Linked DNA regions of Homo sapiens. The protein of the gene in region 2 purifies or fractionates together with the protein of the main gene of each other region. This does not show direct contact. Each region holds a gene or a part of one and is shown on either strand. Other genes may lie near its edges.

Region 1 (3,071 bases), on a different chromosome or scaffold from region 2:
CCCCTGACTCCTCACCCACTGCTTTGCTCTACCACCTTCCTTGTGGCTCTGGGCTGGGCTCAGTAGATCTCTGGGCGCAAATACCCCCAGCACCTGACTCAGCCCTGCCAGGGAGGCCTTGACCAAGGGATACCAGTGAGCAGCTGCTCCCCAGCCTTCACCTCTCTCGGGGTCCTGTCCCCGCAGCATGGCTAGTCGCTTGGCCAGGGCCAGAATCCGTTCCTGCCTCGTGTTCTCCTCCCGCAACTCAAGTGCTGCCTCAGCCAGCAGTCTGCTCTTCTCCTCCTCCAAGGACCAGTTGGCCTGCCTCTTGGAATTAGTGCTCCCTGGGCCACCCTGGTTGAGATCATTCTGGAGAGAGGCAGCTGGAAGGGGTAATGCCATCAGCAAGGCCGAGACATCCCAGTATCTCTCCTCAGAAGCCAATGAGCCCATTTCTCAACCTTTTCTTTTCTTTTTCTTTAATAATTTTTTCTTTCTTTCTTTCTTTCTTTCTTTCTTTCTTTTTTTTTTTTTTTGAGATGGAGTCTCGCTCTGTCACCCAGGCCGGAGTGCAGTGGTGCAATCTCAGCTCACTGCAACCTCTGCCTCCTGGATTCAAGCGATTCTCCTGCCTCAGCCTCCTGAGTAACTGGGATTACAGGCACGTGACACCATGCCCGGCTAATTTTTGTATTTTTAGTAGAGACGGGGTTTCAACATGTTGGTCAGGCTGGTCTCCAACTCCTGACCTCGTGATCCACCCGCCTCAGCCTCCCAAAGTGCTGGGATTACAGGCGTGAGCCATCATGCCCAGCTTTTCTCAACCCTTTCTAATCACAGATCATCAGCTTTTTGCTCAGCACTAGCGCCTATGGTTTCTATCACAAATAAAATTAGTATTCCTCCATTTTTCCAAATGTAAAAAACTAATAATTTTACCCATGTCTTTTCCAACCACATCCATCCCCATCTACCTGATATTTTAACATTCTGCCCTAAGGGTGGGCGTCCTATGGTTTGAGAATCACTGCCCTAAAGGATCAAGACATGATAAGGCCCAGGTTCAGCCGATCTCTTTGCCTTTCAGGGCAGGAATTAGCATCTCCTGGGATTAGCACAGAGAGGGCAATGAAGGAAGCTAAGAGCTTGTATATCACTGGGCAGGAAGAATTTTACCAGATTAGGTGTGGCTCTGACACAGTCACCTTCAGTTTAGTGTTTCAGAGCAAGAGGTTTAAAATCACAGCTTTAGGTTTAAGTCTCATCTCTGCAGCTTAATAGCTGTGTGACCTTGGTCAAGTTCCTCAAGCTCACCAGGCCTGTTTCCTCATTTATAAAAAAGAATAGTATGTACCTTATAAGATTTTTTTTTTAAACAGAGTCTTGCTATGTTGCCCAGGCAGGTCTTAAATTCCCCAGCTCAAGCTATCCTCCCTCCTGCCTCTGCCTCCTTAAGTGCTTAGGATTACAGGCGTGAGCCACACCTGGCCTCATAAGATTATTGAGGATATTCAATGAGATTGTGCCTCTAAAGCAGGACTTCTCAATCTTAGTTCTCTTGACACTTTGGACCGGGTAATTCTTCATCATGATGTGCTGTCCTGTGACATAGTAGATTTAGTAGCATCCCTGGCTTCTATCCTGTAGGTGCCAGTAATATCCTCTGGGTTGTGACAACCAAAAAGTCTCTAAATGTTGCCACAAGTAGCCTGGGGGCAAAATCATCCTTTGTTGAAAACCACTGCTCTGAAGCCTTCAAACAGCACTGTCCAACAGAATGTTCTATGATGATGGAAACATTCCATATCATGTTCTATATCTGTGCTGTCCAAGATGGTAGCCATGAAGCCCATATGGCTACTGAGCATTGAGATGTGGCTGGTTTTACTAAATAGCTTCTTCCTCCTTATCAACATCATGATTGCAGAGAATATTCACTGAGTACTCACTATGAGTCAGGTATGTTCCCAAGCACTTATTGGATTATCTCGTTTACTCCTCCTGATTTCCCTGTGAGGTAGGTTTTTCCATACATACCTTCATTTTACACATGAGGAAAGTGAGACTTAGGTCAAGTAACTTGTCCAGCATCACACAGCTAATACGTGGTAGAAATGGGAATCACTGTCTGATTCTAAAGCCCGTGCACTTAAACACTAGGCTTACACTGGCTCCCTTTGGAGTAAGCACTCAATGAATGGTAACTCTTATAACGTTGATCACTCTCCGATTTATATTCATCTCCCAGAGGGTGGACAGCAGAGCCTCTCCAGTCTGGGGAAAGAGGTAGGGCAGATTCCTAGGGAGCCAAGTGGAGGGGTTACCTGGGCCTCCTCCTTTCCAGCTTTCATCGATAGCCACCTCAGCTGCCAGCTGCGTTAGCAGATCCTGTGTCTGCTGGGCTTGGGTCCTGGTGTCCGGTGTGTGATGTGCCTGCACAGACGAGGAAACCTCAGTGGAGAGCAGGGGTAGCCCAGAAGCAGTCTAGGTCAGGGATGGATGCTAAGTAGTTCTCAAAGCCCAGGGAAAGGAGAGGGATCCAGGGCCCACATAATCAAGTAGGTCTGGCCGTCCCCAACAGGACTGAGGGGCCACTTTTTCCTGCCCTACCCTATCGTGCTGTTTGTCCCTGGTCCCCGGGTCTGGTAGCAGGCCTGAGGATCAGGAGGTAGGGGTGGGAGGCTTTGCCAACTCCTGCAAAGTACATAAAGTACAAAGGTTGGTGCAAAAGTAACTGAGGTTTTTGCAATTAAAAGTAATGACAAAAACCACAATTACTTTTGTATCACCCCAATACCTGTATCTGGGCTTCTGCTGGGTCCTCCCGCTAGCACCCCCGCTTCTCTCCTAAGCCATAACACTCACCGGCTGGGGGGTTTGAGAAGGTAGAACTCTGCCCTGCAACGCTGCAAGTCGTGCCTCCATTTCCTGGGTGGAAGGGATGGAACCCTGACGTTCATCCTTTAGGGCAGCCAGCCGTGCCTCTATCTCTGCCTGTGAGGGGACTAACTCTGCAATTGGCATGGGGGGAGCCTTGTAAGGGCCAGAGGCATCTCAGTCCCAGAAGCCCTGGACTGTGTCCTCTAGGC
Region 2 (3,823 bases):
TAATGTAGCTCGTTCTCACTGAGGTTGCTCAGCAACGCTTCCAATGACTTCTGTTGTGCAACAAGTAGTACTCTACTAATGCATGCACGATTTTATTGTAATTTGCAATAATGACTTAAATACATGTTCATGTCCAGGATTTTCCAAAATACAATCAGATGCAATCAAGTGAAGTTAATGACATTTACGTAATACATAAACTGACAAAACTGCCTGAAAAGAGTTATCTATGGAAGTATTGCTACATTATCTTTGTTTAATTCGATGCCCAGGAAACCAGTCCTAAATTTAAATGATGCCTAGATAGATGAAGCTATAAAGTATTTATTCTCTGTCGACCTATAAGAAATCACCAAGTGGCCAGAAAACTCCTGCAAACCTTCACTAAACTAGAATTTCATTTTCCTTTAACATGAGGGCATTAAAATTAAGAAGTCTGAGAACCGACTGCAGTCACTGCAGTTGAAGGCATGAAGACATGATTAGTCTTTGAGGTATACTTCCTCTCATGGGGTCAAAACAATGAGGTCAGAAACTTGGAGAGTTTAATATTTATTTATTTATTTTTATTTTATTATTTTTTTCAAGCCAGAGTCTCGCTCTGTTGCCCAGGCTGGAGTGTAGTAGTGTGATCTCGGCTCACTGCAACCTCCGCAACCTCCGCCTCCTGGGTTCAAGCGATTCTCCTGTCTCAGCCTCCCGAGTAGCTGGGATTACAGGCATGCACCACCACGCCCAGCTAATTTTTGTATTTTTAGTAGAGATGGAGTCTTGCCGTGATGGCCAGGCTGGTCCCGAACTCCTGACCTCAAGTGATCCACTCGCCTCGGCCTCCCAAAGTGTCAAGATTACAGGCGTGAGCCACCACGCCCAGCCAATTATTTATTTATTTTTCAGATAGGGTCTTGCTCTGTCACCCAGGCTGGAGTGCAGTAACACAATCTTGGCTCACTGTAGCCTCTATCTCCTGGGCTCAGGGATCCTCCCACCTCGGCCTCCTGAGTATCCAGGACCACAGATGCACACCACCACACCAGGCTCGTTTTTTTAATTTTTAGTAGAGAGGAGGTCTTGCTATGTTGCCCATGCTGGTCTGGAACTCCTGGGCTCAAGTGATCCTCCTGCCTCAGCTTCCCAACGAGTTGGGACTATAGCTAGCATACCCAGCTGGATATTTCAGATGGTAGTTTTTCTGTGACCTTTCAAGAATAAACTTTTTTTTTCCCTTGAGATGGAGTCTGGCTCTGTTGTCCAGGCTGGAGGGCAGTGGCGAGATCTCGGCTCACTGCAACCCCCGCCTCCTGGGTTCAAGCAATTCTCCTGCCTCAGTGTGTGCCACCACACCCAGCTAATTTTTGTATTTTATTTTTTTGTTTTTGTTTGAGACGGAGTCTAGTCCTGTCACCCAGGCTGGAGTGCAATGGCGCGATCTCGGCTCACTGCAACCTCCGCCTCCCAGGTTCAAATGATTCTCCTGCCTCAGCCTCCTCAGTAGCTGGGATTACAGGCGCCCGCCACCATGCCCAGCTATTTTTTTGTATTTTTAGTAGAGACGGGGGTTTTACCACGTTGGCCAGGCTGGTCTCGAACTCCTGACCTCATGATCCGCCCACCTCAGCCTCCCAAAGTGCTGGGATTACAGATGTGAGCTACTACGCCCTGCTCAGCTATACACTTTCAATAGTATAACTGTTAATACAGCAAAAAGCCAAAAGGTAGCTAAACTTGTAGATACATTTTGAGACGTGATTGCTACAAAAGTTCTCCTCATTCTTAAACGTTTTTATAAAACTCTTCCAATATACAAGACAGTATGTTATAAACAAAGCTGAATTAAATTCATTATTTGTCAAATTAAAAGACAAACTGTCTAGTAAAAGGAGGTCACAGGCCAGGCGCAGTGGTTCATGCCTGTAATCCCAGCACTTTGGGAGGCCGAGACGGGCAGATCACGAGTTCAGGAGATCGAGACCATCCTGGCTAACACAGTGAAACCCCATCTCTACTAAAAATACAAAGAATTAGCTGGGCATGGTGGCGGGCGCCTGTACTCCCAGCTACTGGGGAGGCTGAGGCAGAAGAATGCCGTGAACCCAGGAGGCGGAGCTTGCAGTGAGCCGAGATCGCGCCACTGCACTCCAGCCAAGGGCAACAGAGCGAGACTCGGTCTCAGAAAAAAAAAAAGAGGTCATGTGGTTCTTGTATTGGAAGAATAATAATACATATACATTATCGTTTTACTAAGTGCTAAGCAAATACTTGGAGCTGTACAATAAAGGAACTTCTGACATAACTGTTTTCTAAAAGGACTGGATTCCTAAGTCCAGCACAAGTGCCTGCTACACCAATTTGCTGAAAGGATTATTCCAAAGTTTCCCTTAAAGCAAGATTATTCAAGAGTTTAGAAAAAAAAAATCAACAAAATTATCCTTTAAACTATGTTATGAATAATCCTCTTGGTTTAGGAAAAGGAGGGCTCAAACTCTAAGAACTTTAATTTCAGCACAAGAATGAAGGGCAAGAAAGGGAAACCAATGGCAACATAATTTTTTGCTTTTAGTGTATTCAACTGTGTTTGCCAAGATTACTGTTATGGTGAGTGAGACTCAATTATCACACAAGTGTCTCTGGATTATTGCAAAGACTACAGCATGTTACCTAATTTCAAATAACATCAGGTATAAAACTATACAAAATTAATTAATGTATAAGAAAGTCCAGGTGAGGTGGCTCACACCTTCTCAGGCTCACGCCTTCCCATGCCACTGTACACCAGCCTGGGTGACAGAGCAAGATCCTGTCTCTTGCTCTGTCCAACCAACCTGGGTGACAAAAATAAATTTAAAAAAAAAATTAAAAATAAAAATAAAAGTGGCTGGGCGCGGTGGCTCACACCTGTAATCCCAGCACTTTGGGAGGCCGAGGCGGGCAGATCACGAGGTCAGGAGTTCAAGACCAGCCTGACCAACATGGTGAAACCCCATCTCTACTAAAAATACAACTAAATAAATAAATAAAAGTTTAAAAAGGTAAAAAATTTGACAGGCAGACGGGAACAGTGGCTCACGCCTGTAATCCCAGCAGTTTGGGAGGCCAAGGTGGGCGGATCACGAGGTTAGGAGTTCGAGATCAGCCTGGCCAACACAGTGAAACCCTGTCTCTACTAAAAATACAAAAATTAGCCAGCCATGGTGGCGTGTGCCTGCAGTCCCAGCTACTTAGGAAGCTGAAGCAGGAGAATTGCTTAAACCCGGGAGGTGGAGGTTGCAGTAAACTGAGATCACGCCACTGCACTCCAGCTTGGGCAACAGAGTGAGACTTTGTCTCCAAAAAAAAAAAAAAGAAAAAATTGACAGGCAAAAACTTACAAATATTCAAAAGGGGTCTATCTCTGTATTCAAAATGGGATCAATTATTATCAATGATCAATTATTATTCCACTCCGTATGTCCATGTGTACCCACTGTTTACCTCCCAAGCAGCTCAAATTTTCATTTAAAATCAAAATCAAAATGCTCCCGCCCCCTAACTCCCAAGGGCAATAAATGAATTCACCTTATGGGGGTGGAGGGAAGCAGGTATGGTGGTATGTGCCTGTAGTCCCAGCTACTCAGGAGGCTAAGGCAGGACTGCTTGAGCCCAGGAATTCAAGTCCACCTGGTTAACACAGAGAGATCACGTCTCTCTTTTTTTTTTTTTTTGGACCGAGTCTCACTCTGTCACCCAGGTTGGAGTGCAGTGGCACAATCTCTGCTCACTGCAACCTCTGCCTCCTGGGTTCAAGCGATTCTCCTGCCTCAGCCTCCTGAGTAGCTGGGACTGC

What was found.
Region 1: the proteins of UNK (region 2) and ZFYVE19 fractionate together in Homo sapiens (co-fractionation; one large-scale study listed by BioGRID). This does not show direct contact.

What each region holds. Positions count from the first base shown.
Region 1 is NC_000015.10:40,809,993-40,813,063, reverse strand, and holds part of ZFYVE19 (abscission/NoCut checkpoint regulator), read right to left. Parts: intron 2,994-3,071; coding exon 2,848-2,993; intron 2,677-2,847; coding exon of another isoform or gene 2,594-2,676; exon of another isoform or gene 2,593-2,593; intron 2,416-2,592; coding exon 2,307-2,415; intron 366-2,306; coding exon 162-365; intron 1-161. UniProt on the Homo sapiens protein: Key regulator of abscission step in cytokinesis: part of the cytokinesis checkpoint, a process required to delay abscission to prevent both premature resolution of intercellular chromosome bridges and accumulation of DNA damage.
Region 2 is NC_000017.11:75,787,702-75,791,524, reverse strand, and holds part of UNK (RING finger protein unkempt homolog), read right to left. Parts: intron 739-3,823; exon of another isoform or gene 1-738. UniProt on the Homo sapiens protein: Sequence-specific RNA-binding protein which plays an important role in the establishment and maintenance of the early morphology of cortical neurons during embryonic development.